Regions from separate parts of the Homo sapiens genome. Here all the other regions are reported to be linked to region 3. Evidence: microRNA targets listed by miRTarBase, many of them from high-throughput screens and not tested one by one. Region 3 holds a microRNA gene; each other region holds the end of a gene's coding sequence.
The links. The annotated mature microRNA hsa-miR-567 reads AGUAUGUUCUUCCAGGACAGAAC and lies in region 3 at 1,539-1,561, opposite strand. An mRNA with a match to its seed (bases 2 to 7 or 8) in the 3' UTR can be bound and repressed. Matches are read on the target gene's strand: a 7mer-m8 pairs with bases 2 to 8, a 7mer-A1 pairs with bases 2 to 7 and ends in A, and an 8mer does both.

Region 1 (3,000 bases), not on the chromosome of region 3:
AATGAGTGGTGGTCGTGCCACTGCACTCCAGCCTGGGTAACAGAGTGAGACCCTGTCTCAAAAAAATTTTATTTAATTTTTGAAATCGATTCACTTTTTAAAACCCATTTTATACTCCCAATCACCAATTTAAGCAAATAAACTGACAGGTGTGCAGGTGTGGATGCCTTCCTTCTTTGCAAACGTCCTGGCTATACTGCTCCCTGCTCTGTAGACGTTGTCTCCTGCACACAGTCCCAGCTGCTAAATCTGCAAATGAAACCAGGATTCTAATGATTTGTTTTCTGTTTTCCTTAGAACGAGACCAAAAGTTCAATACAATGGCTATGCTGGGCATGAAAACAGCAATGGACAAGCATCGTTTGAAAACCCCATGTATGATACAAACTTAAAACCCACAGAAGCCAAGGCTGTGAGGTTTGACACAACTCTGAACACAGTCTGTACAGTGGTATAGCCCTCAGTGCCCCAACAGGACTGATTCATAGCCATACCTCTGATGGACAAGCAGTGATTCCTTTGGTGCCATATACCACTCTCCCTTCCACTCTGGCTTTACTGCAGCGATCTTCAACCTTGTCTACTGGCATAAGTGCAGCGGGGATCTCTACTCAAATGTGTCAGGGTCTTCTACGGATCAAACTACACATGCGTTTTCATTCCAAAAGTGGGTTCTAAATGCCTGGCTGCATCTGTATGAAATCAAGGCACACTCCAGGAAGACTGCCACGTCGCGCCAACACGTCATACTCAATGCCTCAGACTTTCATATTTCTGTGTTGCTGAGATGCCTTTCAATGCAATCGTCTGGGCTCGTGGATATGTCCCTCAGGTGCGGTGACAGAATGGTGGCACCACGATATGTGTTCTCTTGTGTTGTTTTTCCTTTTTAAACCCCCATGAACACGAATACTCTGAAAAAAATAAAAAGCTTTCTGGAAGAAGACACCTTTCTGATAGAGGCTCACACCTACAAATGCTTCACTCTGTCCTTCCGAGACCTGACAAGCTTTGAGGACCTCACAGCTCCCCTGTGTGTTCATCTCTAGGGATGTTTGCAATTTCCCAGTCAGCTGTTCTGTCGCAGAATGTTTAATGCACAATTTTTTGCACTAGTGTGTTATGAATGACTAAGATTCTGATAAAAAAAATAAATTATTTACACAGGGTTTATACACACTATCCATTGTATATAAGCATTATTTCATATTATCAAGCTAAACATTCCCCCATCAGCTTAGTTGGAGTGTTAGGGAAAAGTATTCCTAGATATGGCACAGATTTTAAAAGGAAATACAGTATTGAAGAGATTTATTTTATTATTGCTTCAATTAGCTCCATTTACGTGTTGAATTCATTGAAGAGGTCCAATGAGAAAAAAACAGAAGCCTCCTTATTTCACACGTTTTCCTCCTTTAGTACCATCCTCATCCAATTACTGTCTCTCTGATACTACTTAATAGCAGGGGGTTTGCAGAAATTTCTGTTTGCCATGTAAAACTGTGAATAGTAATTTATTTTAGATAGTCGATGAACTTGTGGGTTTTAGCTCACAATGCAGCCTTCCCTTTTGCAGTGTTTTTTTTTTGTTTTTTTTTTTTTTTGTCTTTTACTGTGCCATCGATCTTTGATATTGCATTGAAAGACAATATACCACAGTAGCACCTTGAACTCAGTGAAAATTGTTCAGGATCAAAATACCAAGTGTTCTTTTAGAGGGAAGGAAAAAGTACACACACTCTCCTCTCACAATGATATATTTTATACATTCATTTGTTATTTGTTTCATGCTTTATGATTCCAGATGGAAAGGTAATTTCAGTGACTTTTCAAGTTTAAATTCCATTATAGGTAAATGATAAGTTATGATGCAAATAAAATCTATAAGATCCCCAGGGCAAATAAAAATCAAAACATGAAGTAGAAGATGTGGCCGTGAGGTAGTTTATGTAACAAATTCAAAGTGAAAATCATGTTTACTTTTACTTATACTTATTTGATAAAAATATTTTTGAAACGATAGTACTTATTTTATTATTTGATATTTCAGTTCCTATTCAATTGTGGCAGATTTTCTCTGTTTCACATTTTAGATTGGCGTTGGTAATAGAAATGTCAGAATGTTCAAATTGGCCTTCACGTTGTCGGAGTGAACACATTGACACCTAGCTTTAAGACTGATTTATCTGTTGGTGTACTGAAGGTTTCCATGTAGGACTTCAAATGTGGAAAAGGAAAAGCAGTCAGGAAAATGGGGCATTCTTTGGAGAGTCACGCGTTTTGATTCGGACATTTCCGTAGAGCTCGGCTCCCAGTGTTGTGTTCCTCGGTCGAAAGGGTCTCTGCTGTTTGGGGACTCACTGGCCTCTCCTAGGGACTCCTTTGTCTTGTGAACCCCACGCTGTTGGATTCTGTATCATTATGCTGAATTCTCTGCACAGTTTTCCCTGGCCAACCTGCCCACATCCTTGGAGATTTGCTTTGCCAGTGGGAATCCTTACATTGCTGTTTCACAGTAGACGGGACGAGGTCAGCGGGAGTCGTGCTCCTAACACACACATTGAACGAAACAGAAGATGATTGAAAGTGTGAGGAGGCTCGTGTGCAAGGGAGAACAGGGTTACTATACATATTAGTGTATATATATACATACATATATATATATATATATTGTACATATCTAAGTTTGAGTCATTCAAACTAGGTGCAAAATGCTGACTTCAGAGTCTGAATTAACATCTCTGTTCCCATATCCCTGACCTGCTCCCTGGTCAACGATGCTATGAAATCCTGAAATGACAGGACATACATACATACAAGAAACCACATATCAAATTAGATATGATTTTCCTTTGTGTGCAAAGTCAAACTGTCCTAGGGTTGCCAGTTTGAAGCATGTTATTTAAATGAAAAAAAAAATCAGTGAAATTCTCGTGTGAGAATTCTGCCTAGTTTCTTCCTAAGGTTGTGTGCAGTGTTGAACGGCGTCTCCGCAAGGTG
Region 2 (3,000 bases), not on the chromosome of region 3:
TGGATAGCTGCCATTATTTCCCTTCTCTTCTGCAAGTTCCTGAAGATTTAGAGGACTGCCCACTTTTGAAGATGCAGCATTTTACAGAAAGAACATGGGTCTCAAAAACCATAACCTACTCCAGGAATCCTTAAGGCAGATATCATTTACCTACACTGAGTTCTTTGTTGCCACCCTGTAACAGGCACAATGAGTTTGACTTCATCTCAGGAACTCGAATGAGGAAGCTCGCCCGGGAAGGAGAGAATCCCCCAGATGGCTTCATGGCCCCCAAAGCATGGAAGGTCCTGACAGATTATTACAGGTCCCTGGAGAAGAACTAAGCCTTTGGCTCCAGAGTTTCTTTCTGAAGTGCTCTTTGATTACCTTTTCTATTTTTATGATTAGATGCTTTGTATTAAATTGCTTCTCAATGATGCATTTTAATCTTTTATAATGAAGTAAAAGTTGTGTCTATAATTAAAAAAAAATATATATATATACACACACACATATACATACAAAGTCAAACTGAAGACCAAATCTTAGCAGGTAAAAGCAATATTCTTATACATTTCATAATAAAATTAGCTCTATGTATTTTCTACTGCACCTGAGCAGGCAGGTCCCAGATTTCTTAAGGCTTTGTTTGACCATGTGTCTAGTTACTTGCTGAAAAGTGAATATATTTTCCAGCATGTCTTGACAACCTGTACTCTTCCAATGTCATTTATCAGTTGTAAAATATATCAGATTGTGTCCTCTTCTGTACAATTGACAAAAAAAAAAATTTTTTTTTCTCACTCTAAAAGAGGTGTGGCTCACATCAAGATTCTTCCTGATATTTTACCTCATGCTGTACAAAGCCTTAATGTTGTAATCATATCTTACGTGTTGAAGACCTGACTGGAGAAACAAAATGTGCAATAACGTGAATTTTATCTTAGAGATCTGTGCAGCCTATTTCTGTCACAAAAGTTATATTGTCTAATAAGAGAAGTCTTAATGGCCTCTGTGAATAATGTAACTCCAGTTACACGGTGACTTTTAATAGCATACAGTGATTTGATGAAAGGACGTCAAACAATGTGGCGATGTCGTGGAAAGTTATCTTTCCCGCTCTTTGCTGTGGTCATTGTGTCTTGCAGAAAGGATGGCCCTGATGCAGCAGCAGCGCCAGCTGTAATAAAAAATAATTCACACTATCAGACTAGCAAGGCACTAGAACTGGAAAAGACCACAGAAAACAAAGAATCCAACCCTTTCATCTTACAGGTGAACAAACTGTGATGATGCACATGTATGTGTTTTGTAAGCTGTGAGCACCGTAACAAAATGTAAATTTGCCATTATTAGGAAGTGCTGGTGGCAGTGAAGAAGCACCCAGGCCACTTGACTCCCAGTCTGGTGCCCTGTCTACACCAGACAACACAGGAGCTGGGTCAGATTCCCCTCAGCTGCTTAACAAAGTTCCTCGAACAGAAAGTGCTTACAAAGCTGCCTTCTCGGATACTGAAAGGTCGAGTTTTCTGAACTGCACTGATTTTATTGCAGTTGAAAAAAAAAAAAAGCTATTCCAAAGATTTCAAGCTGTTCTGAGACATCTTCTGATGGCTTTACTTCCTGAGAGGCAATGTTTTTACTTTATGCATAATTCATTGTTGCCAAGGAATAAAGTGAAGAAACAGCACCTTTTAATATATAGGTCTCTCTGGAAGAGACCTAAATTAGAAAGAGAAAACTGTGACAATTTTCATATTCTCATTCTTAAAAAACACTAATCTTAACTAACAAAAGTTCTTTTGAGAATAAGTTACACACAATGGCCACAGCAGTTTGTCTTTAATAGTATAGTGCCTATACTCATGTAATCGGTTACTCACTACTGCCTTTAAAAAAAAAAACCAGCATATTTATTGAAAACATGAGACAGGATTATAGTGCCTTAACCGATATATTTTGTGACTTAAAAAATACATTTAAAACTGCTCTTCTGCTCTAGTACCATGCTTAGTGCAAATGATTATTTCTATGTACAACTGATGCTTGTTCTTATTTTAATAAATTTATCAGAGTGAAGGCTGAGTTTTTTCTGCCTGTACCATTGGGTGTGGGTTGACCACACAACTTAAGGGCTTTGTGACTTTGTATAATTGGAGTGAGACAGCAGCAACTCTCTTGAACATCATAACTGAGATTATTTACCCTTATTCATGTCTTTTTTATTTTTTATTTTTTTAAAGACGAAGTCTTGCTCTGTCACCCAGGCTGGAGTGCTGTGGCACGATCTCGGCTCACTGCAACCTCCACCTCCTGGATTCAAGTGATTCGCCTGCCTCAGCCTCCTGAGTGGCTGGGATTACAGGCATGCACCAGCACGCAAGGCTAATTTTTGTATTTTTAGTAGAGATGGGGTTTCACCATGTTGGCCAGGCTGTTCTTGAACTCCTGACCTTGTGATCCACCTGCCTCGGCCTCCCAAAGTGCTAGGATTACAAGCTCACTGCACCCTGCCTTTTTTCTTGTTTTTCTTTTTTTTTTTTTTTTGCCTGCAGTGGTGCAATCTTGGCTCACTGCAACCTCTGCCTCCTGGGTTCAAGCAAGAGTAGCTGGGATTCATTACTGGGTACATACCCAAAGAAATATAAATCATTCTGCTATAATGACACATGTACACGTTTATTGCAGCACTGTTTACAATAGCAAAGACATGGAACCAACCCAAATGCCCATCAATGATAGACTGGATAAAGAAAATGTAGTACATATGCACCATGGAATACTATGCAGCCACAAAAAGGAATGAGATCATGTCCTTTCCAGGGACGTGGATGAAGCTGGAAGCCATCACCTTCAAAAAACTAACATAGGAACAGAAAACCAAACACTGCATATTCTCACTAGTAAGTGGGAGGTGAACAATAAGAACACATGGACACACAGAGAAGAACATCACACACCGGGGCCTGTTGCGGGGTGGTGAGGGGAGGGAACATAGAGGACAGATCAATAGGTACAGCA
Region 3 (3,202 bases):
CACTCCACACACATATAGTGTCTGCCTGACCCACAGACACACTTTATTCAGGATGCTCTGTGAGGAAGATCTCCATTTATGAGACTTCCAGTGAGCTAAAATTTGGCCTTCTGAATGGCATTCTTAAGAACTGTTTTACATAACGTTCTGCCTTCTTAGGCCAACATTACTCTTGCCTCTCATCCTCAAGAAACAGTGTCATCATCATAATAAACACCTTGTCTTGTACTATGCACTAACACTTGTGCTTTTAACCCCCTGTTCCATGCTTCTGATTCTAGACCGTTAATGCACCTGCTGCCAACCACAACTACTTCTAATTTGCCTTTCATTCATTCAACTAGTATTTACTGAGAACCTACTCATGTGGAGAAAGTGATTCTGATGGACTGTGGATGAGAACATAAAATATTCAAGATTGTTGGCATTAGGGGCTAAATAAGAGCAAACAAGCCTCCGAGCGAGGTATCAGAAAGTGAGATCAGCAGCAAAGGCCAGAGCTTCACTACAAAGCAATGGAAGGATATTTTGAGGGCTTGAAGCCATTTGGCCTTCTGACCTTCCTTTCTGTCAGGTTTTGTTCTGAGTGTCAAAAGTTCTCAGATTCTGATAAATGGGGTGTTTGTTACATTTATTAAAGAACATATCTATTTCCTTGTTCTGTTCTTAATTTTAAAAGTTGACAAGTAAATTTGTCATAATTTTCTAAGGAAAGGAATAAACTTGTCTTTGTATACCCCTCTATTAATTTCTTAATGGTCTCAGTGGCCTTCAACAGAAAAAGAAATAGGTTCCCCATATTGAGATACTCTTTCAGCAATTTAGCTGTATCATTTATTTCCAATTCTTCAATTCTTACTTCTCTTGTGAAACCACAGTATCTCCATAAAGGTTGCTAATCATGTTGTAAAGTAGGATACAGGGCTTAGAATGTGGGTGAACTGCATGAGGAAACATGTAGCAATGTTCATCTTTATAGTTGAATTATCTTTTCCATAATTGCTCCCCAACTACACTGTCTAATTATGGAGGGCACGGACTGTGTAGCCTCCACAGAGAGGGGAACATCACCTCACAGCAACACCATCTGCTGAGGGGATGAGTGAATAAATGAATAGTCTGACACAGTACCAAGTCACCACAGTTGCCAAATCGAACCAAGCCAATTTGACCCCAATCTGGTTCACCTGTTTATTGTCACAACTCTGACTTCTTTACTTGCTCTACTTACCATAGAGCAAGAGGGATGTTGGATCAAGCCCCAGACTCTCACAACCAGGTATATTCTGATCACGGAAATCCTGTAGCAAAATGCCCAGCACCAACTCCTCACTCATCATATACTTCATAAAATTTTCATCATCTGATGGAACCCCAAATTGCAGGTCATACGTTACTGTGGCATTTTCACCACTGAAAGGCAATGGAAGACATTAAAACATAAACAGCATCATACTGCAACTCAAGAAATGAATTTAAGCAATAACTTTTTTTTTTTTTAGTTTTGCATGTTCTTCCAGTACAAAATAGCAAAGAATGTTCTGTCCTGGAAGAACATACTGTCCTATAAGAATCCTCTTCCATAGATTCATCACAAAAAGTTGAGGTGATCCTAACCTCCTCCTTCCACCTAGTACCTATCCTCTAGGAATCCACTGGGAGAGGCCATCAGAGGTAGAGGTAGAGGTGCCCATCTCCAGTCAAGATGCTGAGAAGATCCCAGGCTTGACCCACCATCTGTCCCAACCCCAGCCTTCATCCCTTAAGGCAAGCCAGGGAAGCCTCCCCTTTTCTCCACACACATTCCTTCTTCATGTTCTCAGCATTGCCCCCACAAAGGTGTGCCAGGGATATTTAGTTTAACCAATTCTTTATTTGACCTATGAAAATGTTTAAGGCACAGCCAAAGTTTCCTACCATTGGCTGGGTCCAGAACTTCTGAACGTTGACAGAGACCACCCTGTGTATCAGCAACAAATCAGGCTTCCCTGGTTTGTCCCCAAAGTGAGAAACTTTTCTGTCCCATTTCCAGAGGCCCCTAGGGCAAGATAACCAAGCCCTGTAACTCTCAGTAATGGGACCTAAGGAAAGGGAATTTTCATCTTCCTAGAACATTTTTTCCCATTTCCAAAATAAAAATAATCAAGGGCTACCCTCCATTAATTAGTGTCTAATGCTACTCTTTAAATGCTACTTCAACATTTAGTTTATTCATAGTTATCCTATTACTTTGGTTTAAGATGGGCCAGATTAAGAACCAGCAATAAAATAATGAGCAGGAGGCCACATCTGAGACTATCACCTTGGGGAAGTTTTGCAGATGCACCAGTCCCATTAGTGTGAATCAGGCCACTGCCCCTGCTAAGGATAGGCAAAGAGCTCCCTCTTCTGGCTACAGGTCACATAGGCCGATACTCTTCGATCTTACAAGGTGGCTGACAATTGAGCTTATAAACTCTACTACGGCTGGGAGATGTGCCAGATCCTGCAGATCAAATGAATAATGGAGAGTCAGGACTCTGAAGAAACTCATAGTTTCAAGGATGCCACTAAAGGAGGGCCAAAAAATGCACTTTCAAACTGCAATCCAGCTAACCTAGTTTGCAGGTGTCATAACTTGTTCCCTGAGCTCTGCCCTCTAATTATCGCTAATGATGATCAACACCTACACAGCCAGCCACCCTGCATTCCCAGGGGCAAGGACTTGGGCTGGCTAATGAAGAGGGCCAGAGTCTGACTTTCAGAAGACCAGGTCAGAAGCTGAATGGGAAAATCAGGCCACCTAGCCTGGCCTGGCCAGCCCATCCTAATCCCCCATGGCAGGTCACAGGGTAAATTTACATGAGGCTGAATTTTGAGAAAAGAGCAACTTTCAGGGCCTTTCGCCCAGCTGCCCACCACTGGAGTGAGTCTAGCAGCTAATAAACCAAAGGGCATTTTTCCAGGTTCTAGCTGGGCCAGTCCAGGGCTGAGGTCACAATGCCCCTGTAGACACAAATGCATGTGCCAGGGATTTAGCCGCCTCCCACCCATGTGCAGCAGCACCCTTTGGGAAGCAATGGCTTTTCTTCCTCAATTCAATACTTTAGGACCTCTGCCTGGACTTCTTGAAATAAAGTGCAGAGATGTCACCGTAAGTACCATGTACACTGGGTCTGTTTTGTTTTGTCTTGTTTGAGTCTCTCTGTGTCACAGGCTGGAG

Region 1: miRTarBase lists CSMD1 as a target of hsa-miR-567. Seed matches in the 3' UTR shown: 7mer-A1 at 2,648-2,654, 7mer-A1 at 2,804-2,810, 7mer-A1 at 2,808-2,814 and 7mer-A1 at 2,812-2,818.
Region 2: the mRNA of PAPSS2 is a reported target of hsa-miR-567. Seed matches in the 3' UTR shown: 7mer-A1 at 496-502.

What each region holds. Positions count from the first base shown.
Region 1 is chr8:2,936,042-2,939,041 of GRCh38, reverse strand. It overlaps CSMD1 (CUB and Sushi multiple domains 1), which reads left to right. Exons shown (of 70, transcript NM_033225.6): 70 at 298-3,000. The coding sequence ends at 457. All of the region lies in intron 6 of LOC105377785 (a long non-coding RNA gene), which reads right to left. Among named protein-coding and RNA genes, the nearest start is that of LINC03021, 210 kb to the right of the region's middle.
Region 2 is chr10:87,745,648-87,748,647 of GRCh38, forward strand. It overlaps PAPSS2 (3'-phosphoadenosine 5'-phosphosulfate synthase 2), which reads left to right. Exons shown (of 13, transcript NM_001015880.2): 13 at 185-2,058. The coding sequence ends at 323. Among named protein-coding and RNA genes, the nearest start is that of ATAD1, 71 kb to the right of the region's middle.
Region 3 is chr3:112,111,175-112,114,376 of GRCh38, reverse strand. It overlaps MIR567 (microRNA 567), which reads right to left and starts at 1,576; the gene lies at 1,479-1,576. C3orf52 (chromosome 3 open reading frame 52) reads right to left here. Exons shown (of 6, transcript NM_024616.3): 5 at 1,232-1,413.